2 separate regions of the Homo sapiens genome follow, and region 2 is linked to region 1. Evidence: fine-mapped expression QTL. A gene starts in region 1. The other region holds a variant in brackets. All regions are shown on one strand. Distances are from middle to middle. Region 1 holds the start of CCDC25 (coiled-coil domain containing 25). Region 2 overlaps ESCO2 (establishment of sister chromatid cohesion N-acetyltransferase 2).

What was found. PIP is the estimated chance that this variant, and not a neighbour inherited with it, causes the effect.
Region 2: its variant is fine-mapped to the expression of CCDC25 in whole blood (TOPMed, PIP above 0.99). The same link has a PIP of 0.9 or more in blood mononuclear cells.

What each region holds. Positions count from the first base shown.
Region 1 is chr8:27,764,457-27,781,768 of GRCh38, reverse strand. It overlaps CCDC25 (coiled-coil domain containing 25), which reads left to right and starts at 9,129. Exons shown (of 9, transcript NM_018246.3): 1 at 9,129-9,256; 2 at 16,518-16,565. The coding sequence starts at 9,229. It overlaps ESCO2 (establishment of sister chromatid cohesion N-acetyltransferase 2), which reads right to left and starts at 7,215. Exons shown (of 11, transcript NM_001017420.3): 1 at 7,162-7,215; 2 at 6,202-6,270; 3 at 4,600-5,407; 4 at 1,502-1,595. The coding sequence starts at 6,254. It also overlaps the pseudogene RNU6-1276P. RefSeq lists a silencer at 7,158-7,327 and enhancers at 7,438-7,587, 9,136-9,445.
Region 2 is chr8:27,789,462-27,799,282 of GRCh38, reverse strand. It overlaps ESCO2 (establishment of sister chromatid cohesion N-acetyltransferase 2), which reads right to left. Exons shown (of 11, transcript NM_001017420.3): 8 at 7,231-7,320; 9 at 6,472-6,615. Among named protein-coding and RNA genes, the nearest start is that of ESCO2, 20 kb to the right of the region's middle. The variant T/C (reference allele first, on the strand shown) is at 4,771.

The sequences.
Region 1 (17,312 bases):
ACCAGCATGGCCAACATGGTGAAACCCCATCTTAACAAAAATTAGCCGGGCATGGTGGTGGATGCCTGTAATCCCAGCTACTTGGGAGGCTGAGGCGGGAGAAATGCTTGAACCCTGGAGGTGGAGGCTGCAGTGAGCCAAGATGGTGCCACTGCACTCCAGCCTGAGCAACACAGTGAAACTCCATCTCAAAAAAAAAAAAAAAAAGTCTATACCAATACAAGTTTCTTAGTTTTGACAAAAGTATTATAACATAAGATGTTAAGAATGGAGGAAACAGGGTAAGAGATACACTGCTACTCTCTGTACTTTAACTTTTCTGTAAATCTAAAATTATGGCAAAATAAAGTCTATTAAAAGAAAAGAGCAAAGTTAAAACAGCAATTGATTTGAGGAAAATAGTAAGCTGAGAGTGGGCTAAAAAAACAAACTTTAACTTTGCATTGAAAAATAATTAGAGCTCATCCTCTAGAAACAAGGCCAAGGCAGGTGAAAGTCTGAGCTGCTATTGGTAAGTTACTTAACCCAAGTCCATTTCCTCATCTATAAATGGGCATATCAGGACCTAGAGTAGTAGGGAGAATTAAATGATAAACTGTAGTTATTAAGTAATAAAGTTTTGGTCTTTTTATATTACTTTTATGATTTCTCCCATATCCTTATACCATTTGTATTATTTTTATTCACTATTTTTCTTTAAATTGACTTAGACAATGTACTAAAATATATTTTAAAAGAAAAATTTATAACTATTTTAAGTAGATGCCTTTTTGTTATATTTTCTATTGTATCAGTGCTTTGAGCACAATCTATGAAAAACATAACGTATACTAAATATTTAGCACTGCCTTATATTCAGCACTCAGTAAATACTAGTTATTAACATCATATCTCAGAATCATAAAAAAAAGCTTTATGTATTCATAGTTTAGTAAGCTATTTAATTGAACACTGACAGCATAAATTAGGAATAGGATTTCAGAATTGACAGGAATTTAAAAATTAACTTTAACTCTTTAGAGATATCTTCCTAGATCATACAGCTAATTATTAGTAAACCTAGACAAAAATCCATGGTTCTTGATGCTTAATTTCAGTGTCACTTATAAAACTTAGTAAGTTCTGCTCACAATTGGGCTTTGATCACAAATATACATAATAGTTTTAACTTCTATTATTTTGGGTGAAAGATAGAGTAGGTATGATTTTATAATGAGAACACTCAACTCTAGAGAGCTTAAGTAACTTGGCCACAGCCATAGACCAATTAAGCCTAATATTTTGTCTAAAATTTTAACCTAGGATCTCCTTGTTTCTTGTTTTTCAAAACGCAATGCACTGCTTTACTACAGAAAACAGTGTCACAGAGATAAACAAAGATACTAACCACAGGCACGCTACTGAAAAAAGAAAGACCCAGAAATTACAAGAATTATTATTGTATAATGTATGTAATAAAGCATTATTTTAAGCAGCTAAATTCATGCGAGTTTTCTCTTACTTGTCTTATTCTCACCAAGAGAATCCTCTGAAGAAAAAGCCTCATTTTTATCAACTTTATGTTCCTTTGAAGAAACTCTGTCATCTGATGAATCCTGAAAATAGGTTTAAAAAAAAAACCAAACATCTGTAATTTTTAACTATTTTCTAGTGAATGAATCCCAGCAGATCTATTTCTAAAACAAAAGATTTGGTTTATTATGAATTACATTTCATAATGTGATTTTCAATCAATTTTCAAACTATTTTTAGGAAAACTTCCCCTGTATTCACTAAGCGTACATTACCTTTAAAGCCAGAGTACAGCAGGGCCCGGTGGCTCATGCCTGTAATGCCAGCACTTTGGGAGGCCGAGGTGGGTAGATTGCGAGGTCAAGGGATTGAGACCATCCTGGCTAACATGGTGAAACCCTATCTCTACTAAAAATACAAAAATTAGCTGGGCGTGGTGGCACCTGCAGTCCCAGCTACTCGGGAGGCTGAGGCAGGAGAATTGCTTGAACCCAGGAGGCGGAGGTTGCAGTGAGCCAAGATCGTGCCACTGCACTCCAGCCTGGCAACAGAGCAAGACTGTCTCAAAAGAAAAAAAAGCCAGAGTACACGTGTTGTAATCTGTCATCCTCTCAAAAATGTGTTATACTTCCTGACAGAGATGGCAGAATGATTACAGACCATCACTTCCATAATGAAATGAACAAAAAAGCCAGTAAAAATGGCAAAAGTTTCCCCAGCAGCCACCAAACTGGAAAGGGACAACTTTTTGCCATAAACTTTAAAAATCAGCAGCTAAGGAAAGAACATTCTAGAGTCACTGGAGAGTAGCAGGAATGTGGGAAAAGCAAAGTAGAAAAAAATCCTGACAGATTTCCCTCATACTAATTTGGGAATTACTAGGGAATATATAGCTTGGGGAAAAAGGAAAAAAACTCTTGGTTAAAGTAGAACTTCTACTCAAAACCATAATATCCCAGCAGAGGTGGGATAACCCATCAGTTTAACACTTTTCAGGGCTCCATGAGTTGGGGAAAGGGTATCCTCACAAAAATCAGATTCACCGGCCAGGCGCGGTGGCTCACACTTGTAATACCAGCACTTTGGGTGGCCAAGGCAGGTGGATCACAAAGTCAGGAGTTCAAGACCAGCCTGGCTGAGAGGGTGAAACCCCGTTCCTACTAAAAATACAAAAATTAGCCAGGTGTGGTGGCCGGTGCCTACAATACCAGCTACTTGGGAGGCTGAGGCAGAGAATTGCTTGAACCTGGGAGGCGGAGGTTGCAGTGAGTTGAGATCATGCCACTGCACTCCAGCCTGGGCAACGGAGTGAGACTCCATCTCAAAATAAAAAAACAGAAAATCAGATTCGCCCTTAGCTAGCAGAGACGAATCCCAGACATGGGTATTTAGCAAAATCTTGAAAGAGCATAGCCCCGTTCCACAAATTTAAAATGCACAAAAGCCCAGCTTCCCAAACTACTGAAAACTAACTCAATACCAAACCCGTAAAGTGAAGCTAAGAAAAAGAAAATAAGACAGAAAAGAGAATTACAGAATTCTCTGTTACACTGGTTACAGAGAATTCATCAGGTCACCATTCATTTGGTACACCACCAGGCTGTACCAAACAGATAAGAATAATCATCAGGAGATGCATGGGGAAACTGCAGACTCTTCCTTTGTTTTACTGGATTGAGACAATTTTAGCTTGAGTTACGCCCCAAACTTTCAAAAAACTTAATTTTCATACAAATGTATAAGTATAAAGCACAGTTTAATACATTTTGATAAAGCTTACTCTTGTAATCAAAATCCCTATCAAGACACAGAAGTGTTTTGTTGATATAAACAGAAAATGAATTAGTAAAATTAGACTGTCATGGCTTAGCTAGCAAGAACGTATCTCATTTAACAATCTACTTGGCCATACTCGATAAACAGGAAAAAAAACAAACATTTACAGTGAGGACTAAAAACTTAAATGCCTTACAAGGGCAGCAGTAAGTAAAATGATCAAAACTAAACTGATCTAAATAGATAGATATACACTGACTTAGAGAAATGAAGAACCCATATTTGTCAAATGGTATGATACTCAGCCTGATATTCAGCTCTGATTATTGCCATGTAGAAATGAAGGCTCAGCTTTCAATATTTCATGAGACACCAGAAATGTTTTTCTTGTATTTAAAAATAATTTTGGCTCCAACTTTTAAATTATGTAGGCCAAGCAAAACATTTATGGGTGAGATTTGGTTTACTGGCCACCAATTTATTATCTTTGCCACTGAGGTTTGAAATTTAGGTGATTACGAGAGATATGGACTGGGGTTGAATTTGAGAGAAACTAGTGAGGAAGGCAATGATGAGAGGTGGGTTAGGAAAGACATGACTATAAGCCTGAGTGTACTGGGTATCATATAAGCCTATCATTTCTCCAGCTACAAGGGTTGTGATGAATATAAACAAGCCACCATACATGGAAGCCCTGATCTGGAGACAACCTCTCTTAAGGTTGCTTCAATGGCTTTCTGCCCCTAGCTGCCCCACAAAACTCAACTTTTTTTCTGATGAAGGATATAAACAGGAGGTCAGCAACAGAAGTTCTAGACCAGCATGGTCTAATATGGTAGCCACCAGCTACATGTAACTATTGAGAACTTAAAATGTGGCTGGGCCAGGTGCAGTGGTTCACACCCATAATCCCAGCAATTTGGGAGGGTGAGGCAGGTGGATCACTATAGCCCAGCAGTGCGAGACCAGCCTGGGCAACATGGTGAAACCCCAGCCTCTACAAAAAATGCAAGAATTAGCCGGGTGAGGTGGTGTGCATCTATAGTACCAGCTACTTGGGAGGCTGAGGTGGGATTGCTTGAGCCTAGGAGGTTGAGGCTGTAGTGAGCAGTGTGCCACTGCACTACAGCCTGGGTCATAAAGAAAGACCCTGTCTTAAAATAAATAAATAAATAAACTCCTTACAGTAACTAAACACTATGCTATCTGGCTTTATAAAAGCAGTCCAGAAAATAAAATTTTATTCAACTATGTCATTTATACTGAAGTTTTGTTATACAGCCATTTTTAAAGTGATATATTTAGCTTTACCTTTATTAATTTCTCTTTATTTTTACTGCTTGCACTCAGTAGTCCAATTTTCAATTTCTCTTCTAGGACCAAGCACTTTGGCACTTGCCTTGTCGCAAAAGTTTTTTTTTCACTGACAGTCTCTACATCAGAATCTTCAATGACTTCTGATTTACTCTTTTGGGTGCGTCCCAGTGACGGCTCATTTTCCAGGGACGATTTTCTAAGAGAAGATTTTTTTCTAACAAAAAATGCTGCTCCACCCTGGAGTGTAACTTGTGGTTTTATTTTTTGGCTCAGAACCCGAGGAGCATTGGAATTATTTTCAGCTGAATGACAATTATTTTCCTTCTCCACAATTGGCTTATAGATCACTCGATTTTGCTTGGAATTTCTAGAATTCCTTGATACAGGCTTGATGTGTCTATACTTTGGTTGATACTTAGCAGTTAAACTCTTCTGTGGTTTTTTGTTGTTCTTCTTGGAGCAGACTGGTTTTCCTTGCATTTTTTCTGTCACAATGGGAAAAGATTTATCTTCATCATTAGTTTTTAGACAAGTAGATCTACTCTCTTTTATCAGCTTTCTCTCCAGTGGATTGAGGTACCACTTATTTTGGTTGTAAAAAGATACAGTGGAGAGCGCAGATTTAAATGGTGAGCCTTGATTTGCTGATGGCAGTCTATTTATTTCAGTTGTTTTGAGCGCACTTAAAACAAAATGCTCTTGTTGAGAGCAATGCAGGTTTTCTTCATTTTTATCACTGTTTTGATAAAAACAGTGCTTTTTATTAGGTGATGGAAACAGATTTTCAGTGAAGTGTAAAAGGCTATAAAAAGAAACAAAGTCCATTGATAAGATTATTTTGCGTCAAAATTTACATAAATCTACTGCTAAGTAAGCTCTACTTGTAGGTCATATTAAAAACAATACATGTACCCCCCATACACACAATTTTCTATTAGTTTAACAGTAGGATTCTCAAATTCTGTCTTTATCAAATAAAACATTCAAATATCTTCCCAAAGAGTTCATGAAAACAAATACTATATACAAAGAAGCTATGATAGACATATATGCATGTATGTTTTAAAATCGATTTCTATGTGTTGGCCATATATAAATTATAGCTCATATATTTTGCTCTATTGTTTACAAGCCCCCTATAATAACTGTCTGTAATGAACTGACCCCCTGGGGCTTTTCCTGGGTAGAGTAATTAATATCTGAGTACACAGTCTTTCTAGAATTGTTTCCAGACAAGCATCTACTGTATGCAAAACACTGTAAAATATTATAGGGGAACAGAAAGGAAAAAGGTAATAGCTGATTTGGTATATTTCCTAGCTATAGAAAACAGCTTTCTTCAATGTGCTGCTTCTATGTCAAAAGAAAAAAACAAAAACTAAAAAACAGCTTTGATTCCCTTGAAAAGGACTAAATAATTCATTATGAAAACTTAATGTATTTCCAAGCTAGAATTAGAATATAGGTTATCAGGTTATCACTGTAGCCACAAGGAGTAGGCTAGTGGAAGAACGAAAATTTTAGAAAATAGGAGAGAACAAGAGAGACAAGAAGGTGGATTTTTCTAAGAGTTTCTATTCACAGGCTGAGATTCACCTGTCACACTTCAAAGAATCCTGCTTCCTCTTCCTTGGAGTAAGAGCTGCCATTTTCTTTATTGAATTCCTAAAAGAAATGACAATAACCACATTCATCAAAATATTAAAAATCGCTTTATCAAAATTATACCCCCTTTAATTAGTCTATTTCACACCAAGTTAAAACCCTATTTTCTGGGAGGTCTTCCTCGACATTGCTCTCCTTCCACCCCTCCAAGGGTTACACGCGCTTGTTCTGCTTCCATGGCACCCTGTATTTCCCTAATAGTCCATTTAAGACATTTTCTTGTTTCCCCATCTCAACAGCCTTCAATGAAGGCAGAGACCGTCTGTAACTTTTCATCAGAGCCCAGCAAGAAAACGGGTGAAGCACAGTCCTCTGCCATTTTCCTAGCTGATGAGCCCGGAGCAAGCCGTTTGCTTCCCTTTTTATAAAAATCTCTTGAAGTCGTAAGGCTGCTGAAAACAAATGCTAGAATGCACGAGCAGGCGGCTACGTGGCTCGTCAGAATTCATTTCCTTCCCCTTCCCTGGGATCAGGGAAATTCCCCCCAAAGCAGCACACAAGCGTTATTTCAAAGCTATTAATGAATGAACAAACTGAAAGGCCAGGGTCTCTGGGAATTCAGGTCGAGCTGCGGCTTAAGGGGGGACCCCTCTGGGGCTAAGCGAGGAAAGGTAGGAGAGGAAAGCGTCCCGACCCTGAACCCGGTCAGGGAAACAAACAAACAAACAAACCCTAAACCCAAAACAAGGAAACGCCGGCGTCGGGAAGAGGGAAACCCGGCGCCTGTGAGCGCGGAGAACGAGTCAGTGGCTTCTTCGGTCTCGGGCCTGCGGACCTGCCGAGCGCCGAGCAAAAGCTCTTTCCCCGTGACATTCGCCCCCACGTTCCACAGGGTCTCCCGCTCGCCTCAGCCTTCCACAGCCCCCCGCCTCGGCCTACTCCAGAGGTTACCTGCGCCTCAGAGCCCGGCGAGCTCTCCTCAGCCTAGCCAGCCGCTCCGTGAGCGTCTTCAAATAATCGCGCGCCAGGCTAGGAGGAAGCCGCTGCGTTCCGATTGGCCACGGCTCAGCGCTTCCAGGGGCTGGCTCGGTGATTGGTGGAGCACCAGCCCTTGCCCCGCCCACCCTGGTGGCTGTTTCCAAGATTCTCGCGCCCTGGTGAGGTGAAAAATCTCTGAGGGAAACCACGCCACCCACAATCCCCTGCAGCAACGCCGGACTCCGTTCCCGGGGCCTTGTTTAGGTGCATTCTGGGAATTGTAGTTCTCGGTCCAGTTGAAGTTGAGATACATTCTGGGGTCACGGGGTAAGAAATTTTTGTAAAATGGCCTCTCCAGCCTGGCGACAGAGCAAGACTCCGTCTCAAAAATAAATAAATAAATAAATAAATAAAGGCCTCTCCAAGATTCTCGATGCACTTATTTTTCACATTTGAAGCTTCATTGTCAGTTTCACTTTTTTTATTAGTAACTTTAGGTTTCTATTTATTTTTCAAATTAAAATATAAAACTTAACACCTGCTATGTGCCAGGCATTCTTAGATGCTTTACATGTTTTGTTTCATTTACTTCTTACCACAATCTGTAAGGCATTAATATCTATTGCCATTCCCATTTTACAAATAATACAACGGAGAACCCAAAACAATTGCTATTTACAGAACAGAGCTAAATTCTTACTTTGGAAAACCAGAAAGTTCCTAAAACGGTTATTGTTAGCTATTGTTACTATCTTTGTGTCACCAGCTCCTGGTACAGTGTTTCTGGCACATTTTTAGTTTCAAATAAGTTTAGAGTTTTATGTTTATTTTTTCAAATTTAATTTTCACAAATTTGTATGTCATCCTTGAGCAGGGGCCATGTTAAAGTTCTCTGTATCATTCCAATTTTAGTATACATGCTGTCAAAGCAAGCATGTAAATAAATTTCGTTAAGTGACGCCCTCAATTTCATAGAATGAAGTCAGTGACAGTGATGTAAGAGTGTCAGTTTAAAAGGAAAAGGCTGAGGCAAAAAAAAAAAGAATGTAGAGTTTGCTTGAGTTAAAGCGGGGACAGCTGCCCAGAAGATTCCAACCCCCCTCCCCCCACCGCCCTCCACCAGCAGGCTTGGATATGAGCTCTGTCTGGCCTTTGCTACAAGCAGGTTTTTAAAGACGAAGAAGGGGGGCAGGAAGTGGGCTGATACACAACTGTCAAGCATTCTCATTGATGTATAGAAACTACAAGCATCAGTGATTGGCTAGACATTGTTAAACTATAGGGTGTGGGTCATGTCATAGTGTCTTGTGTGGCAGTGTTAGGTTAGTAGGTAGCTACCTGTGGCAGAAGCAGGTAGTTTCAGTAGATGAATACATAGCTCAAGGGGGTGGTAGAACATGATGGGGTCTTATCTTAATGCCTCTCCAGACCTAGTAATTTAAAGGGACTCACATTCCTCAGATAAAAGTGCTTTCTCAAGAGAAATAATCAGGGCAAAGCCAAGTGCTGTAGGAGCTTTACATGAATATGATTATTCCTACTTTATAGCAGGAGGACCTCTGAGGTTCAGAGGTTTGGGATGGCAGGCCTTCGATTTAAGCCAGAACAAAGTCCAATCCCCAAGAGGCATATTGTCCTGGTGAGTATCAGAAACAACTCGTTTGTGTGCTATGTTCTAAACCCTTGGCGCCCATTAACTTATTTAACCCTAAAAAATATCCTGTGAGTTAGCTGCTCTAGTATCATCTTCATTTCGCTGCTGAGGAAAGTGAAGCACAGACAGGTTAACTAACGTGCCCAAGATGCCCAGCCTCTTTCCCTTAACCCACAAATCACTGAACCAAACTCCTTGCCACTACACTTCGCCTCGCCAGGATTAAAAATGGCGCCCACGGCCGGCGTTATGACGCGCCCCGACGTCCGCCGGAAGTGCACGGAGGAGTTCCGGGGGCCAGGCGGCCGCCGCGAGTCTGGTATCCTGAGCTTCGTGAGTTGAGCGCTGCTGCTCCGCGGTGGAGTCACCGCACCGCTCCCGGGATCATGGTGTTCTACTTCACCAGCAGCAGCGGTGAGTGGGCGCCACGTCCTCCTGGACCCTGCTGGACAGCGGGCTCCGAAGCCGGGACCCGCAGTCCGCCGCTGCGCCTGACCCTCGCTCTAAAATGCCTTCTGGATGCGAGTGCCTCTTCCCGCGGCCTCTCGGTCCCCCAGCACATCCGTCCCTCCCACGGCTGCAGGATTTCCCCCGGCGTCCCCTCGTCATGGCGTGGGGGGCGCGGAGGGGCGATGCCACTGCTATGTTTGTATCGGGGAGTTCTCGTCCCCTAATCGGAAAGACGTCCCGTCACTCCCTGGGATTGGGCAGAGCCTGTGGGCTCCTCCACACACCTTATCCCAAGTCTTCTTCCCACCTTCCATCTGCGGCCTTTGTTCTGGCTGAACCCTTGTAATTATCCCCTGTGAGAAAGGAGACACCTGCTAACAACTTTTTCTTAAGGGAAGCGCGACTTACCCTTTCAGGAAGGGGTTGTAGGGTCTGGGATGCAACAGAAAACAATAAAAAGACCCTGGGATGTCCACCCAGCCACTCTCCGGGCAGTTGATGTCCCAGATCTCAGAAGTGACCTATGGTAATGCTTCTGACTTATCTTTGACAGATAAGGAAAGGGTGCCCTTCGTTCCCAGGAAATGCAGTGTCCCGACTTGGTTTCGTTCTGTTCCTGTTATTCCCCTTTCCTAAAATCAACCCCCAGCTAATTCCCTTAAGACAGTTTTGGCCCATCTTTTCCAAGATGCCTTTCCTGATGCTAGCTCCTACCCCAAGATTGCTTAGCTATTCCTTTCCTGGGACCCACTTAACGTTCCAAGTATGCCTTTGGCATTGCACTTATCACGTGGTATTAAATGGTGTCTGCTTGAGCTAGAGTGTAAGTCCCTTGAGGGCGTGGACAGGATCTCTTTACAGTAGTCCCTACTTGTCCTGTATTTCGCTTTCCGTGGTCACATCATCACAAGAAGAAAAGGAGTGAGTACAGTACAATAAGGTTTTGAGAGAGAGAGAGAGCAGAGTCACCTAACTTTTATTACAGTACGTTGTTATAATCGTTCTATTTTATTATTAGTTATTGTCAATAATCTCTTACTCCACCGAACTGATACATTAACTTTATCATAGGTATACATATATAGGGAATACCAGTAGCCATGCGTCCCTTAATGACAAGAATACATTCTGAGAAATGCTCCATTAGGCGGTTTCATTGTTGTAGCAACACGGTAGAGTATACTTAAACCTGTGGTATAGCCTACCACAAATGTAGGCTGTACAGTATACCGTTGCTCCTAGGGTACAAACTTGTACAGCACGTTGCTGTACTGAATGGCTGTAGGCAATGGTAACGCAATGGTGTTTGTGTATTTAAACGGGTCTCAACGTAGAAAAAGTGAGTTGCACCACGCTGTTATGATGGCTACCAGGTCATCAGGCAATAGTGATCAGAATTTTTCAGCTTCGTTATAATGTTATGGGACCACCATAGTATGTGTGGTTTGTTGCTGACCAAAGCATCATTATGTGGCAAGTCCCTTTATATATGGAATTCAGTGTTGTCCTCGGTTTCAGGCATCTGCTGGAGATCTTGGAAGACATCCCCCACAGATAAGGGGGGACTACTGTACTTGTTTCCCTAACGTAGTGACTGGTTAGTAGTTCTCAATAAATGCTTGTTGAATAAATGAATGCCATTTTTTTACTTACTTATAGCACTTTCTATTCTATTGCTACTCTATATGCTTGTTAAAGGTGAGTTTTTTGTTTTTGTTTTTGTTTTTTTTTTTTTTGGAGACGGAGTTTTGCTCTTGTTGCCCAGGCTGGAGTGCAATGGCACGATCTCGGCTCACTGCAACCTCTGCCTCCCGGGTTCAAGCGATTCTGCTGCCTCAGCCTCCTGTGTAGCTGGGATTACAGGAATGCGCCACCAAGCCTGGCTAATTTTGTATTTTTTTAGTAGAGACGGGGTTTCTCCATGTTGGTCAGGCTGGTCTTGAACTCCCGACCTCAGGTGATCTGCCTGCCTCAGCCTCCCAAAGTGCTGGGATTACCAGCATGAGCCACTGCGCCCGGTCTAAAGGTGAGATTTATTTTATTTATTTTTGAGACGGAGTCTTGCTTTGTCACCCAGGCTAGAGTGCAGTGGCACGATCTCAGCTTACTGCAACCTCCATCTCCTGGGTTCAAGCGATTCTGGTACAGCTAGGATTACAGGGACCAGCCAACATGCCTGGCTGATTTTTGTATTTTTAGTAAAGATGGGGTTTCATCATGTTGCTCAGGCTGGTCTTGAACTCCTGAGCTCAAGTGATCTACCCACCTTAACCTCCCAAAGTGCTGGAATTACAAAAGGTGAGTTTTTGTTTTGTTTTGTTTTTTGTTTTTTTGAGATGGAGTCTCCCTCTGTCACTCGGGCTAGAGTACGGTGGTGTGATCTCAGTTCACTGCAACCTCTACCTCCTGGGTTCAAGCAATTCTACTGCCTCAGTCTCCCAAGTAGCTGGGATTACAGGCACACGCCACCATGCGTGGCTAATTTTTGTATTTTGTTAGTAGAAACGGGGTTTCACCATATTGGCCAGGCTAGTCTCGAACTCCTTACCTCAAGTGATCCACCCGCCTCGGCCTTCCAAAGTGCTAGGATTAAAGGCGTGAATCACCACGCTCAGCCAAAAGGTAAGATTTAAGTGAAACTAGTTCCACATTGTTTGTGTGGGTTTGAATAAGGCAATACTTTCTCTTTAGAAGTAAGATTGAGGCTCAGGGAAGTTGTAACTCACAGACCCTACTCTTCCACCTTCATCACACTGACATCTCCTTATTTTTCTCAGTAGTTTAGCCTTCCACAGTGTGTGCCATGAGCTATTTCTCTGTCTCTGTACATGTGGTTTGTTTTACCCATATTATTAAAATTACTAGAAACAAAATTCAAAACCAGCCTGAAAAATCATATACCCTTATAGGCCTCTAAGCATTTTCGTCCTTGGCAACTCAGGCATCTCTTTATAACTTCTCCAGTTGTGAATCTTCAACAACATAGATATCCATATAAACCCAACAATGGAAAAACAAATATACAGGCAGGGTGTATAGGTACTGAATGTATTTTGTGCTGTTCTATTCCCCTTAAAGTTACTCTGAATTCTTTAAGTGTTAGTCACACATACACATCTGCCCTTAATAGAGCAAAATGCTTCACTAGATTTGTGGGTCCTGTTTTTTTTTCATTGACTTCCATTATAATGTCAGAACTGTTTCCTGTTAGAAAAATATTTGGCCTCTAAGCCTAATAAAAGTGCACTTGTGCAGCTGATCTTTTAAAACTGCAAAGTTAATGGAAAAATCATAACTTTCTCAGTAAAATAGTAATGAGACTTTACATATTGGCAGTATAGAAACAACAAATATATAGAATCTTCAGGAAATGAATTTGTATGGCTTGCCAAGTTTTTAACTAACTGATGGTTTTTACTGCATAAAAACTTTTTTAAAATGGGAAGAAAATCTTCATAGGAAGTTGTTCTTTTACATTTTAAGATTAATATCTGACTAAAATGTGTTCCATTTTCATTCTTTCATGCTGTCTCATAAGGGAATAATTGAACATTAGTCTAATAAGTCCAGTGTCACATTTAAGACCATCTGATTATAGATACTTGGCTCAAAGTCCACTTGTACTTTTAATACCTGTTAATATCATCTGCCTAAAAGTAGATTGTTCTATAAATTGTGAAATAATCAGATCACCTCTGAAGTTGGGTTGGTTGCTACCCGTAAGTCAAGTGTCTTCCAAATAACCGGTTCCAGTACTAATCAACCATATTATTTAGATGAGAATAACAAATGAACTAGAATAATTCAGTTTACTTTTCCTTCTTAACATGGAAAGGAACTTAATTCAGACTTGTTGTGCAGCAATGATGTTCCTTTTTATTTTTCATTTTCTTTTCTTTTTTTTTTTTTTTTGAGATGGAGTCTTGCTCTGTCTCCCAGGCTGGAGTGCAGTGGCATGATCTCGACTCACTGCGACTTCTGCCTCCTAGGTTCAAGCGATTCTCTTGCCTCAGCCTCCTTAGTAGCTGGGATTACAGGCATGTGCTACTACGGCTGACTAATTTTTGAATTTTTAGTGGAGACAGGGTTTCGCCATATTGGCCAGGCTGGTCTTGAACTCCTGGCCTCAAGTGATCCTCCCGCTTCAGCCTCCCAAAGTGTTGGGATTACATGCATGAGCCACTGCGCCCAGACTAATTTTCTATTATGACATAATTTCAGTCTTTCAGAGAAGTTGCAAGTATAGTAAAAGATTTCCTGTATATTCTCCCAGAGTCCCCCAATTTTTTTTGAGACAGTCTTGCTCTGTCACCCAGGCCGAAGTGTAGTGGCAAGTGTAGTGGTGCAGTCACAGATCATTGCAGCCTCAACTTCTTGGGCTCAAGTGATCCTCCCACTTTAGCCACCACACCCAGCTAATTAAAAAAATTTTTTTTTTATAGAGACAGGGTTTCCTCATATTGCCCAGGATGGTCCCGAGCTCCTGGGCCCAAGTAATCCACCTGCCTCAGCCTCCCAAAGTGGTGGGATTACAGACGTGAGCCACTGTGACTACAAATTCTGACATTTTACTACATGCCTTGTCTTTCTTTTTCCGTTTCTCTTTTTCTCTATTTTTTTCTCTTGCACACACCTTTTTCCTGAAACGTTTGTAAGTTGCAGTTAACCCCTGAATGCTTCAGATTTATTTTCTAAAATCAAGGGCATTCTCTTCTCAAAAGACGTTTTTCATCATCAAAATTAGGAAATTAACATTGCAGCAATGCGATTATCTAATCAACAGGCTTTATTCCGTACCCATTAGTGTCCTAATGATGTATTTGTAACAAAAAATACCTTACAAATCATTGTTGCATTCTTCAGGTGTCATTATTCTGTAGCCTCCTCTAATCGCGAGCAATTGCTCAGTCTTTGTCTTTCATGGCATTGTTAGTTGAATTATTTTGTAGAATGCCCCTCACTTTAGGTTTGTTATGGCCATTTTCTTAATCACCTCATTTAATAAGTCAACCATCAAAACATTCCTCTATTATTATTTTGGCTGTAGCTTAGACAGCTTGGCCTGCAGAGACAACTTTATTAATATTTTATATCAGTTATTATTTTTTCTTTTTTGAGACAGTCTTGCTGTCACTCAGGCTGGAGTGCAGTGGCATGATCTTGGCTCGCTGCAACCTCTGCCTCCCAGGTTCAAGCAATCCTCATGCCTGAGCCTCTCCAGTAGCTGGAACCACTGGCGTGTGCCACCACACCTGGCTAATTTTTGTATTTTTAGTAGAGATGGGGTTTCAACATGTTGGCCGGGCTGGTCTCAAACTTCTGGCCTCAAGTGATCTGCCCACCGCGGCCTCCTGAAGTGCTGGGATTACAGGTGTGAGCCACTGCACCTGGCCTATATTGTTATTTTGAAAATTCTGTTCTAATTACAAAAGCCATCTGTATGTTTTATAGCAGGCTAACCAAGGTAACTGTTGTTAAAAAATGTTTATGCTTCCATACATATGAAGTATGTGCTTATATAAAAATAAAACATGTATGTGTATGTATATACACACACATACCATTATAATCATTTATTTTTTATAAATTGAATCATATAGATACACAAAAATACTGTTCGGATATTTAATTTCTTCACCTGCCGTTTCTTTTTAATGGGTACATGGTATTTTGTTTATGGATGTTCAAATCTGTAATATATTTAAAGAGTCTCTATTAAGGGATGTTTAGGTTGTAAAAAGATTATTGCTTGGTGGAGTATTTTGGTACTCTATTATGGTAACATTATAGGTAGTGACGTTATAGGATTGAAAGGGTATACACTTGAACTATTGCCAGGCCATGCAGAGAAAATCTGAAATGCTTTTTAGTTTTATTCCCACCCTTTTGGCATTTGTTACACGCTACACTAAGGCCTGATCAAGGTACTACAATGCTCAATAATAGACAAGCATTTCTATAAACTTGGCGATGCACACATTCTTTCAAGGTACTTTTCTCAACTACTTCTGGACTTCAGTTATTATAAATGTTAAACAAAGGAATTAGTTTTCTCTCCCCCGAGAAAGGCAACTAGGATTGATCATTTAAGAAGCTTCTCATTACTGAAAGTACAGGGCATCTCTCTGATATAAGGCTTTTTAATTTAGGAGAGCGTATTGCCCTTTGTCCTTCAGGGCTCCAGGTACATGTGTGTGTTCTGTGCTGTGGAGTGATAGCCAGCAGGCTGTTCAGCCCAACCCTGCACTTATCAGTACTTTGCTTCAGTGTGTATTTATTTTTCAGTACTTCTCCATCACAGGCTTTGTAGCCTGAGGGCCCAGTGTCTATGAATTCAGGAGTTTAGTCCAATTGGATCAAACAAGTTTTGGTAAACTAGCTTTGAAACCTGGCACTCAGTTATCCTTTCAGTAGGAATCCAAGGTAGGGACGTCTGCAATAAAACACCACCTTGGTAAAGCAAATATCATTTCTAGGATAAACCATACCCAGAAGATTCCATTTGAGTTAGGATAGTTGTTTCTAACCCTGACCTTATATTAGAATCACTTGGAAGGCTTTTAGAAAACACAGATGCTCACTCTTGCCCACCAGAGATTTGGATTGAGTTGATCTGAGGTGGAGCTGGGGCATAATTAGATGATTCTAATGTAGATCAGGGGTCAGAGTCACTGGTTTAGAAGTTGGAGAGTCATGGTCTCCCTGAATGTGATAGAGAGCCTGTTAGAATATGCAGCACACCTGGAATATGGGTAATATTGGCTAAAAACAATTATGCACAATAAAACTTTGGTAAACATGGGAACTTAGTTGTGGTGTTTAGTTTTCTTTTCTTTTCTTTTTTTTTTAACTCTTAAAGAAGGCAAAAGTATAGGACTGGACTGGCGATACCATTGAACTGTAACCCTGAGAAAGTAGGAAAGTAGCTATTAGTAAGGATGGTAAACTTTCTCTTTTGGGGCCAGATAGTAAATATTTTAGGCTTTGTGAGTCACCTACAATCTCCGTGGCTTATTCTTCTTTGTTTTGCTTTTTTTCCAACCCTTTAAAAACGTAAAAACCATTCTTAGCTCAAGGGCTGTCCAAAAACAGGTGGTAGGCTGGATTTGGATCATGGGCCATGGTTTGCCAGCCCCTAGTCTAAGAATTGTCACTTGTTTTTCACATGAAACAATTTTGTTGGTGATGAAGTTACTAATTGTTTTTTATTTTTGTTTTATCTTAGTTAATTCATCTGCCTACACTATTTACATGGGAAAAGATAAATATGAAAGTAAGTTTTCAAAAGCATTTGATTTTGAAATTTTCAGCAGGTAAGTGTTATCTCTCACTCACCACCTTCCATGCCCCCCACCCAGTTTGTTGGTTCTGAGTTTTCACCTACTTTGATAAACTAGCTTTTGAGAAACAGAACAAGCTCACATAGGGAGACAGCAGCACCTCCTAAGCTACATAAGAAAAATGCTTTAACTATCAATGTTACTTGTGATGATTTATGGGTTAGTAGGAGAAATGTAAAACTCAAGTGTTAATATGCTGCAGACTGCTTCACCATTAAATCACACCCAAAGTTAATGTCACAACTTTATTATCATGAAAAAGTACTAAGGTCTATTTTTTAAAAAGTATAGACAAAATGAAGTAACATGAATAGTAAATGCTGTCGAAGTAGACAGATCAGAGATAGTAAATGTGATTGAAAGCTGAGAAGGCTTTGTGGAGGAGTGGGTTAGGATGGACTAGATTGTGGAATCCTTTGAATGTCTATTGTAGGAATATATAGATACAAATCTAGATACATAATTTATGTCACAGATATAAATTTAGATGATATTTTTAGAGCCCTCTGGAGTGGCATTTTGCTGTCATTAAAAACCTTTGTAGAAAAAAACGTAAGAGGCCAGGCATGGTGGTTCACGCCTGTAATCCCAACACTTTGACAGGCTGAGGCGAGAGGATCACTTGAGCCCAGGAGTTCGAGACCTGCCTGAGCAACATAGGGAGACCCTGTCTCTACAAA
Region 2 (9,821 bases), 21 kb before region 1:
TCTTCCTTTTAATAAAGTATATAAAACTCTCTCATTCTCTCCATCCTAAAATGTATATATGACCACCTAAAGAAACCAGTAACACTAAAGAAGATTTATATCTATTAACTATGAAATTTGGTTGGCATTTCGTTTCTTAAACATTTTTATTTTGAAATAGATTCATAAGAAGTTGAAAAAAACCACTACAGAGGAGCATGTATCCTTCCCTGAGTTTTCCCCAATGATTACATCTTCCATAACTGGTATAATACCAAAACCATGAAATTACCATTGGTATAATGGTGTGTATAGTTTCATGACACTTAATCACACCTGTATATACATTTAACTACCATCACAATCAAAATGCAGAACTATTGAGTCACCACAAAGATCTTCTTCCTCATTATAGTCACATCCACACTACCCCCTCTCCCATCCTCAGTCCCTGACAACCACCAATTTATTCCCCATGGCTATGAGAATGTTATATATTATATAAATGAAATCATATACCATATGACCTTTTGAGATTGGCTTTTTCCCACTCAGCATAATGCCCCTGAGACTCATCCAAGTTGTTAAGTGTATCAATTCTTTGTTACTTTTTATAGCTAAGTAATATTCCATCATATGGCTGTATCATAGCTTATCATTCACCTAAAGCATTTAAGGACACTTTGGTTGTTACCAGGTTTTGGCTATTACTAATAAAGCTGCTATTAACATTCTTGTACAGGTTTTTGTGTGTACATCAGTTTTCCTTTGTTTTACTTAAATGCCCAGGAGAACAATGGCTGGATCATATAGTAAATACATGTTTAGTTTTTTTTTTTTTTAAAGAGACGGAGTCTCACTCTGTGGCCCAGGCTGGATTGCAGTGGCACGATCTCGCTCACTGCAACCTCCACCTCCTGGGTTCAAGTGATTCTCCTGCCTCAACCTCCCAAGTAGCTGGGATTACAGGCATGCACCACCACGCCCAGCTAATTTTTGTATTTTTAGTAGAGGCGGGGGGTTTCAGCATGTTGGTCAGGCTGATCTCGAACCTGACCTCAGGTGATCCACCTGCCTTGGCCTCCCAAAGTGCTAGGATTACAGGTGTGAGCCACTGCGCCTGGCCTATGTTTAGTTTTTAAAGAAACTTCAAAACTTTTTCCAGAGTGGCTGTAATATTTTACATTCCTACTAACAAGGTGTGAGAGATCTGGTTTCCCCATATCCTCACTAGCATTTGGTATTGTCTCAATTCTTTACCTACTGTTACCCTTCTGACAGGTGTGTATTTAGTTTTTAATTACGAACAACACAACATTGTTTCTGACCTGAGAGTAGAAGAGAACAGTTAGTTAGCTACATCTTGCCTATTATCAGGACATAACAGTCTACTTCTTTGAGATCGAAGAAGGAAAAGGCCTCTTAAATAAATACACAACATAAAAAGATGTAAACTGTAAAATTAGTAATGTTGAAGGGAAAAAAAGTGCAGAGCTTTTGTAGGTGATATAAATTGTTATCAGCTTAAAATAGGCTGTTATATTATAGGATATTTTATGTAAGCCTCATGACCATAAAGCGAAAACCTATAGTAGATACATAAAAGATAAAGAAATCAAAGCACACCACTACAGAAAATCATCAAATCCCAAGGAAGACAGCAAGAGAGGAAGAAGGGAATATATATAAAACAACCAGAAAACAAAACAAAATGGCAATAGTAAATCCTTATTTATCAATAATTACTTTAAGTGTAAATAGAATATGTTTGCCAATCAAGACACACAGAGTGGCTAAATGGATAAAAACACAAGACTCAACTAAATATTGCCTACAAAAGACTCACATAGACTGAAAGTGAAGGGTCAGAAAAACGACTCCATGCAAATGGAAACCGAAAGAGAACAGGAAGTACCTACACTTACATCATACAAAATAGATTTTAAGTCAAAAACCATCAAGAGACAAAGAAGGTAATTATATAATAAAAGGGTCAATTCATTAAGATAAAACAGTTGTAAATACATATGCATCTAACATTGGAGCACCTAAATATATAAATATTTAGGATTCTGAAAGGAGAAATAGATAGGAATACAAAATTGTAGGGGACTTCAAGATCCTACTTTCAACAATGGATACATCGTCCAGACAGAAAATCAATAAGGAAATGAACTTTTTTTTTCTTTCTTAAGAGATAGGGTCTCACTATTGCCCTGAGCGGAGTGCACTGGTGCGATCATAGCACACTGCAGCTTCGAACTCCTGGGCTCAAGTAATCTTCCTGCCTCAGCCTCCTAGGTACCTGTGACTATAGGCATGCACTACCATGCCTGGCTAATTTTTGTAAAGACAGGGTCTCACTATGTTGCCCAGGCTGTTCTTGAACTCTTAGCCTCAAGCTATCCTCCTGCCTCAGCCTCCCAAAGTGTTGGGATTACAGGTGTGAGCCACTGAGTTCAGCCAGTAAACACTGAACTTACACTTCAGACCTAATGGACCTAACAGAAACACATATAGTATTCCATCCAATAGCAGCGGAATGAATGCACACTCTTTTCAAGTGCACACAGAACATTCATAGCAGTATAAAATTAGAGATCAATGACGGGAGGAAAAGTAGAAAACTGACAAATATGTGAAAATTAAACCACATGCTCCTGAACAACCAATGGATCAAAGAAATTAAAAGGGAAATTGACAAATTTCTTGAGACAAATGAAAATGGAAACACAACACACCAAAACCTATGGAATGCAGCAAAAGCAGTTCTACATAAAAAAAGAAGAAAGATCTCAAGTAGCCTAACGTTACACCTCAAATAATTAGAAAAAGAAGAATAAAGCCCAAAGTTAGTAGAAGGAAGAAAATAAAGATCAGTGGAGATAAATTAAACAGGGACTCAAAAAATAGAAAAGATTCGCAAAATGAAGAGTTGGTTTTTTGAAAGATAATTGACAAACCTTTAGCTAGACTAAGAAAAAAGAAGACTCAACTAAACAAAATCACAAATGAAAGAGGAGACATTACAACTGATTATCACAGAAGTACAAAGGATCGTAAGAGACTATGAATAATCATATATCAACAAATTAGGTAACCTATAAGAAATAAATTCCTAGAAGCATACAACCTACCTATACCAAATCATGAAGAAACAGAAAATCTAAACTAACCAATAAAAAGGAGATTCAATCAGTTTAAGAAAAAAAAAAAAACTTGCATCATAGGAAAGCCCATCTGTAATGACATCACTGCTAAATTCTACCAGATATTTAAAGAACTAATACTAATCCTCAAACTCTTCCAAAAAACTGAAGAATACCTCCAAAGTCATTTTGCAAGGCCAGATTAATCTGATACCAAAGCCAGAAAAGGACACTACAAGAGAAGTTACCAGCCAATATCCCTGATAAACAGATGCAAACTAGCACATTAAAAGCATAGTACACCATGATCCAGTGGACTTTATCCCTGGATGCAAGGATGGCTCAATACATGCACATCAATGTGTTACACCATATTAACAGAATGAAGAACAAAACTATATGATCATCTCAATACAGAAAAGGCATCCAACATCCTTTCATGATAAGAACTCTCAACAAATTAGGTACAGAAGGAATGTACCTCAATATACTAAAGGCCATATATCACAAGCCCACAACTAACATCATACTTAGCAATGAAAAGTGGAAATCTTTTCCTCTTAATCAGGAACAAGACAAGGATGCTAACTCTCATCATTTCTATTCTACATAGTTCTGGAATTCCTCGCCAGAGCAATTAGGAAGAAAAAAGAAAGGCATTCAAATTTAAAGGAAGAAGTTAAATCATCTGTTTGCAAATGACATGAACTTATGTACAGAAAACCCTAAAGCCTCCACCAAAAAAACTATTAGAATAAACAAATGCAGAAAAGGTGCAGGATACAAAATCAACATACAAAAGTCAGTAGTGTTTCTATACAGGAAAAACAAACTATGATCTATCTTAAAAAGAAGTCAAGAAGACAATCCACTTATAATAGCATAAAAAACCCCACTTATGAATACATTTAACCAAGGAGGTGAAAATCCATACACTGAAGACCAGAAAACACTGATGAAAGAAGATGAAGAATATCTACATAAATGGAAGGATATCCAGTGTTCATGGCTTGAAAGAATTAATATCGTTAAAATGTCCATACTACCCAAAGCAATCTACAAATGCAATGCAATCCCTATCAAAATTCTAATGGCATTTCCACAAAAATACAAAAAACAGTCCTAAAATCTTGTGGAACCATAAGAGATTCCAAACGGCCAAAGCAATCTAGACCAAAGAGTAAAGCTGAGGGGCACTGCACTCCTACTGGCATTAAAAAACACAGCAGCCAATGGAACAAAACAGATAAAATAAATCCAGGCATTTAGAGTCAACTGGTGTCTGACAAACATGCCAAGAACAAACAATGGGGCAAGGACACAGTCTCTTCAATAAATGGTGTCGGGAAAAATGAATATCCACAAACAGAAGAATAACATTGGAGACTTATCTCAAACCACATACAAAAATCAACTCAAAATGGATGAAAGACTTAAAATGAGGGACCTGAAACTGTAAAACTATAAGGAAAAAAATGAGAAAAAAGCTTGACATCGGTCTGGGCAATAATTTTTTGGCTATGACCCCAAAAATGTGGGCAATAAAAGAAGAAATAAATGTAACATCAAACTGAAAAGTTTCTGCATAGTACAGAGTGGATAAACACAAACTAACCAACCTACTGATTGGAAAAAAAATTTG[T/C]GTATACAATAGGGGATAATATCCAAAATATATAAATAACCCAATACCAAGAAAACAAATACTCTGATTAAAAAATGGGCAAAGAACCAGAATAGATATTTTTCAAAAGAAGACATACAAATCAGGAACAGACATATGAAAAAATGCTCATTCAACATTACTAATTCATCAAGGAAATGCAAATTAAAACAAGATCACCTCACGCCTGTTAGAATGATTACTATAAAAATGCAACTACCATATGCAGCAATCCCACTTCTGAGTGTATATCCAAAGGAACTGAAATCAGTATGTTGAAGAGAAATCTGTACTCTCATGTTCATGGCAGCATTATTCATAGCCAAGATATGTAATCAACGTTAAGTGTCCATCAATGGATGAATGAATAAAGAAAATGTGGTACATATACAGGTGGAATACTATTCAGCCTTTAAAAAGGAAATCCTGACATTTGCAACAACATGAATGAACCTGGAGGACATCATGCTAAGTGAAATCAGTCAAGCAAAAAAGAAAAATAGTGCAACATCTCACTTACATACTGAATCTAAAGAAGTTGACTTCATAGAAGCAGAGTAGAATGGTGGTTGCCAGAGGCTGGGGGAGTGAGAGATGGGAGAAATGGGGAAACGTTGGTAAAGGGTACAAAGTTTAAGTTCGCATGAGTAAGTTCTGCAGATCTATTGTATGGCATGACTGCAGCTAATGTATACTTGAAAATTGCTAAAGGCCGGGTGCGGTGGCTCATGCCTGTAATCCCAGCAATTTGGGAGGCTGAGGCAGGTGGATCAGGAGGTCAGGAGTTCAAGATCAGCCTGGACAACATAGTGAAACCCCGTCTCTACTAAAAATACAAAAATTAGCCAGGCATGGTGGCACGCGGCTGTAGTCCCAGCTACTTGGGAGGCTGAGGCAGGAGAATTGCCTGAACCCAGGAGGTGGAGGTTGTGGTGAGGCGAGATCGTGCCACTGCACTCCAGCCTGGGCAAAAGAGTGAGACTTGGTCTCAAAAAAAGAAAAAAAAAAAAAAAAACAAAGAAAAAGAAAATTGCAAGGAGAGTAGATTTAATGTTCTCATCACAATAAGTTGGTAAGTATGTGAGGTATAGCTATATTAGCTTGATTTAGTCATTTTACAATGTATACCTATATCAAAATATCACATGTACACTGTAAATATTTGCAATTTTTGTCAGTTATACCTTAATAAAGCTGAGGGGGAAGGAAAAGGCCAAACTGATCACTTATACTGGCAAAAATACAAAAAAGCTGCTTTTCTCTCCAACTTCTAATAACACAAGGAGAAACTACATGTCTTCTAGAACATTGCTAATTAGTACCTAAATTAGATTCTAATTAAGGGATAAGTAATGACTATTTTGCCAAAAATATTAACCTTCACTAAGCCACATGTTTAAAAATTTCAGTTTATAGATTTGTTTACTTAAAATCACTAGACTTTATAATCCAGCTGTGTTAATGACTACATGAACATAAAAGACTGGCTTACCTATCCTGTTTATACAAAGCAAAATTCCAAATATTAATGGAAATAAATAACTTCAATTATCCACTAGGTCAAGGATATTTCAGTAGGAAGAGTGTCATTAATGGTAGCAATCTTAAATGCTGAGACTTCTCCCAACTTTTCTTTATTTTGCCTGCAAATTATGCCAATAATTTAAAACAAATATACCATACCTGTTTGATGGGTTCTGCAATTAAACACCCAACTACTCTCTTTTCATCAGATATAAAAAGAAAAGTTTTTATTTTGTTTGGACATTTAGGAACAACTTGCTGGAAGCCCAATTCATTATCAACAAGTTCTTGGACATCTTCTACCTAATGATTTTAAAAACCAAGACAGGTGAATGTTTTAAAAAGTACAATAGAAACTATACATATTTATATACACAGAATGTATGATTACTGTTACTTTAGCCTCTTTAATTTCTATTTCTTAAATTTATACACCTCCAAAATTATTTCACTATTGATGCATGTAGCTGCTACTGTGGAAACAAGGTTTTAAGAACCTATTTTAAAGATCACTTTCAGCAGAAATTGAGACACCTGGGAGGGATAAGGAATAGGAAGCATTAAAACAGATTTGTTTTAGCTTTATTCATTATTCACGGTGGCTAAACATTCAACCTCAGAAACACAAGCAACACCAATATAAGAAATAGACCCTGGGGGCCATTAATTTCTCAACATTGAAAGCTTAGTTTATCTTTCACAAGGGAAAGATGAATATAAAAGATAAGCTGTGGAGCCTTATCTGCCTTCTTTACTCCTTTGTCCTACAATTCTTAGTTTTGTATAAATTGCTATGAAAGTAATCATTAAGCAGGTACCCAAGTGAATTATCTGTCAGCAAAGGCAGTTTGCACTTCAACATAGGTTGATTTCTTGGGGGTGGGGAAAGGCAAGAGATAAAAAGATAATGTTCCATACCTTTTTGATAGCAAAGCTTGGATCATGTGGCAGAACCAACACGATTTTCCCATCCCAAAACTCTGCTACTACACGTTCTTTCTTCCAACCCTGCCAAAGGAAAACAAAAGGGTCACAGTTTAATTTGTGAAGAGGAAAAAAAACCAACATTAAATAATTTGATGTGGAGAAGACAAAAGGCTAAACAATAATAGATATAAAAAGAAGAAGATGAAATCCAACTAAAAGTAATGTGGGAAGAGAAATAAAAGATGCCTAAAACAGGTATCTGGCCTCAACAAGCTGATATCCTATCTGAAGACATGTATATGACTATAAAACAAGGTAAAGAGGTAAAGGTGCGGTGGCTCACACCTGTAATCCTAGCACTTTGGGAGGCCCGGGTGGGTGGATCACTTGAGGTCAGGAGTTCAAGACCAGTGGGCAGGTAGGGGAGGGGTAGAAGAATAAGCCAAATTCCAAGAAAAGGCTAAGTAAAAGTCCTTATACGTTTGTCCCTTATGCTTGACAAGACCACAGATGGGTGCAGTCTTACAACTATTTTAATCTCAACCCCCAGCATAGTGCTTTGGCATGTGGCCCTAGTCTTTGAATGATACTGAAATATTATGGTACTGAAAAGGGTTTAAAAACCTTGGTAAGATGTCAGTGAGCATAATGGGGAAGGTGGTTAACTTGCCTTCAGGCTAAGGCAACTAACTGAATAAGCAAAGGTGCAGAGAATGGCAAAAAAATCTGGTATAACTGACTGATTGGAAAAAATGAGGTTGAAATATTAGAAATAAATTTAATAAGATCCATGACAAAACTATAAAATGTTCCTGAAAGACATCAAAGATATGAATCAATCAGAGGTATACTAAGTTTCTAAGTATACACTAGGTTTATACTACAGTATATACTAAGTTTATATAATAGTATGTGCTATACTAAGTTCCTAAGTTATACTAAGATTTTTTTTCTCTAGAGAAAATGGCATTAGTTTGACTAGTTTGAATAAAAATTCGAATAGGTTTTTCATTTGGGGGGAATGTGATAGGCTTTTTAATTGAAAGAGTAAATGTGCAGAAAAAGTCAAGACATTTTTTACAGAGAAGGATGAAAGGGAACTTACCTAACTATACAGTATGAAGCTACATTTATAAAAGTATGGCACTAGCACAGGAACAAATGGATGGTGCAGAAGTGTCCAATAACAAACCCATTTATATGTGGGAATTTGGTATGCATTAAACGTGGCATTGCTAATCAGTGTGGAAGATAAACTAGTCAAACAGTAATGTTGGCACACTTTGCAGTCCTTTAGGAAAAATATAAGGATCCATCTCTAACACTATGTCTTGAAAAAATTCCAGTGGATTAAATGTCTAAATATAAAATTTATAGCTATAAATTTTTTTAAATATAGGAAAAACTTACTAATTTTGGGACTGAGATGATGTTCCTGACTTAAGAAACCAAAGGTCACAAACTAGCTAAATAAAAATGTTTTCTTTGTAGCAATATACACCACAAAAAGGTTAAAAAAATCCAAGTAATGGTATTTGCTTGTATATGCAGAAAATATCTCTGAAAGATATATAGATGAATCTGTTAATGCTGGATGCCTATAGATAGGGGAACGAGGTTTCTGGAAGGGGTATGGAGAAACACTTTTCACTGGATATACTTTTGCATTCTGTGAAATTTGAATCATGTGAAAGTATTACTATATCAAAAATATAAATTCAAACCTTAAAAAAAGGGACAGGGAGAATGTATTTGTAACCCAGGAATGATATTCAAAATATATAAAGGATAACATGCCCAGTATGTTTCCACAAATTAAAGAAAGAAATCCCGTATGGTATAGTCTGGCTTCATCAGAGAATGTGGCTTATTCCAGCGGCAGGAGCTTAGAGCTGGAGAGGGAATGTGTCATGTGACAAGGTGGGCAGGGGCCAAATATGAAGAGATCTGTCAGCCAAGGTAAGGAGTCTGGGTTTTATTCCTAGTGCAACAGAAAGCTGTCAAATTTGAAGCAGACAATGTCAGAACCTATGTTTTAGAAAGAACTTTCTGGCTGATGTAGAGATCAGATCAGAGAGGGCAAGAATTTAAACTACACACATACACACTTTCTCTTTTGTATGTATTTTATATGCACATATATAGGAAAGGTTGAGGCCAGATTAAAGAGCACCAAACTTCTGGTGGGAACTTTTTCTTTCCAGAAGTATGTAGAATCATACTAGACTTATGTTTCATCTATGGCTTTTTTTTTTTTTTTTTGAGATGGAGTTTTGCTCTTGTCACCCAGGCTAGAGTGCAGTGGCACAATCTTGGCTCACTGCAACCTCCACCTCCTGGGTTCAGGCGATTCTCCTGCCTCAGCCTCCCGAGTAGCTGGGATTACAGGCACCCGCCACCACGCCTGGCTAATTTTTTGTATTTTTAGTAGAGACAGGTTTTCGCCATGTTGGGCAGGCTGGTCTCAAACTCCTGACCTCAGGTGATCCACCCACCTCGGCCTCCCAAAATGCTGGGATTACAGGAGTGAGTCACTGCACCCGGCCTAGACTTATGTTTTAAAACGTTATTTCTGGTAGCAC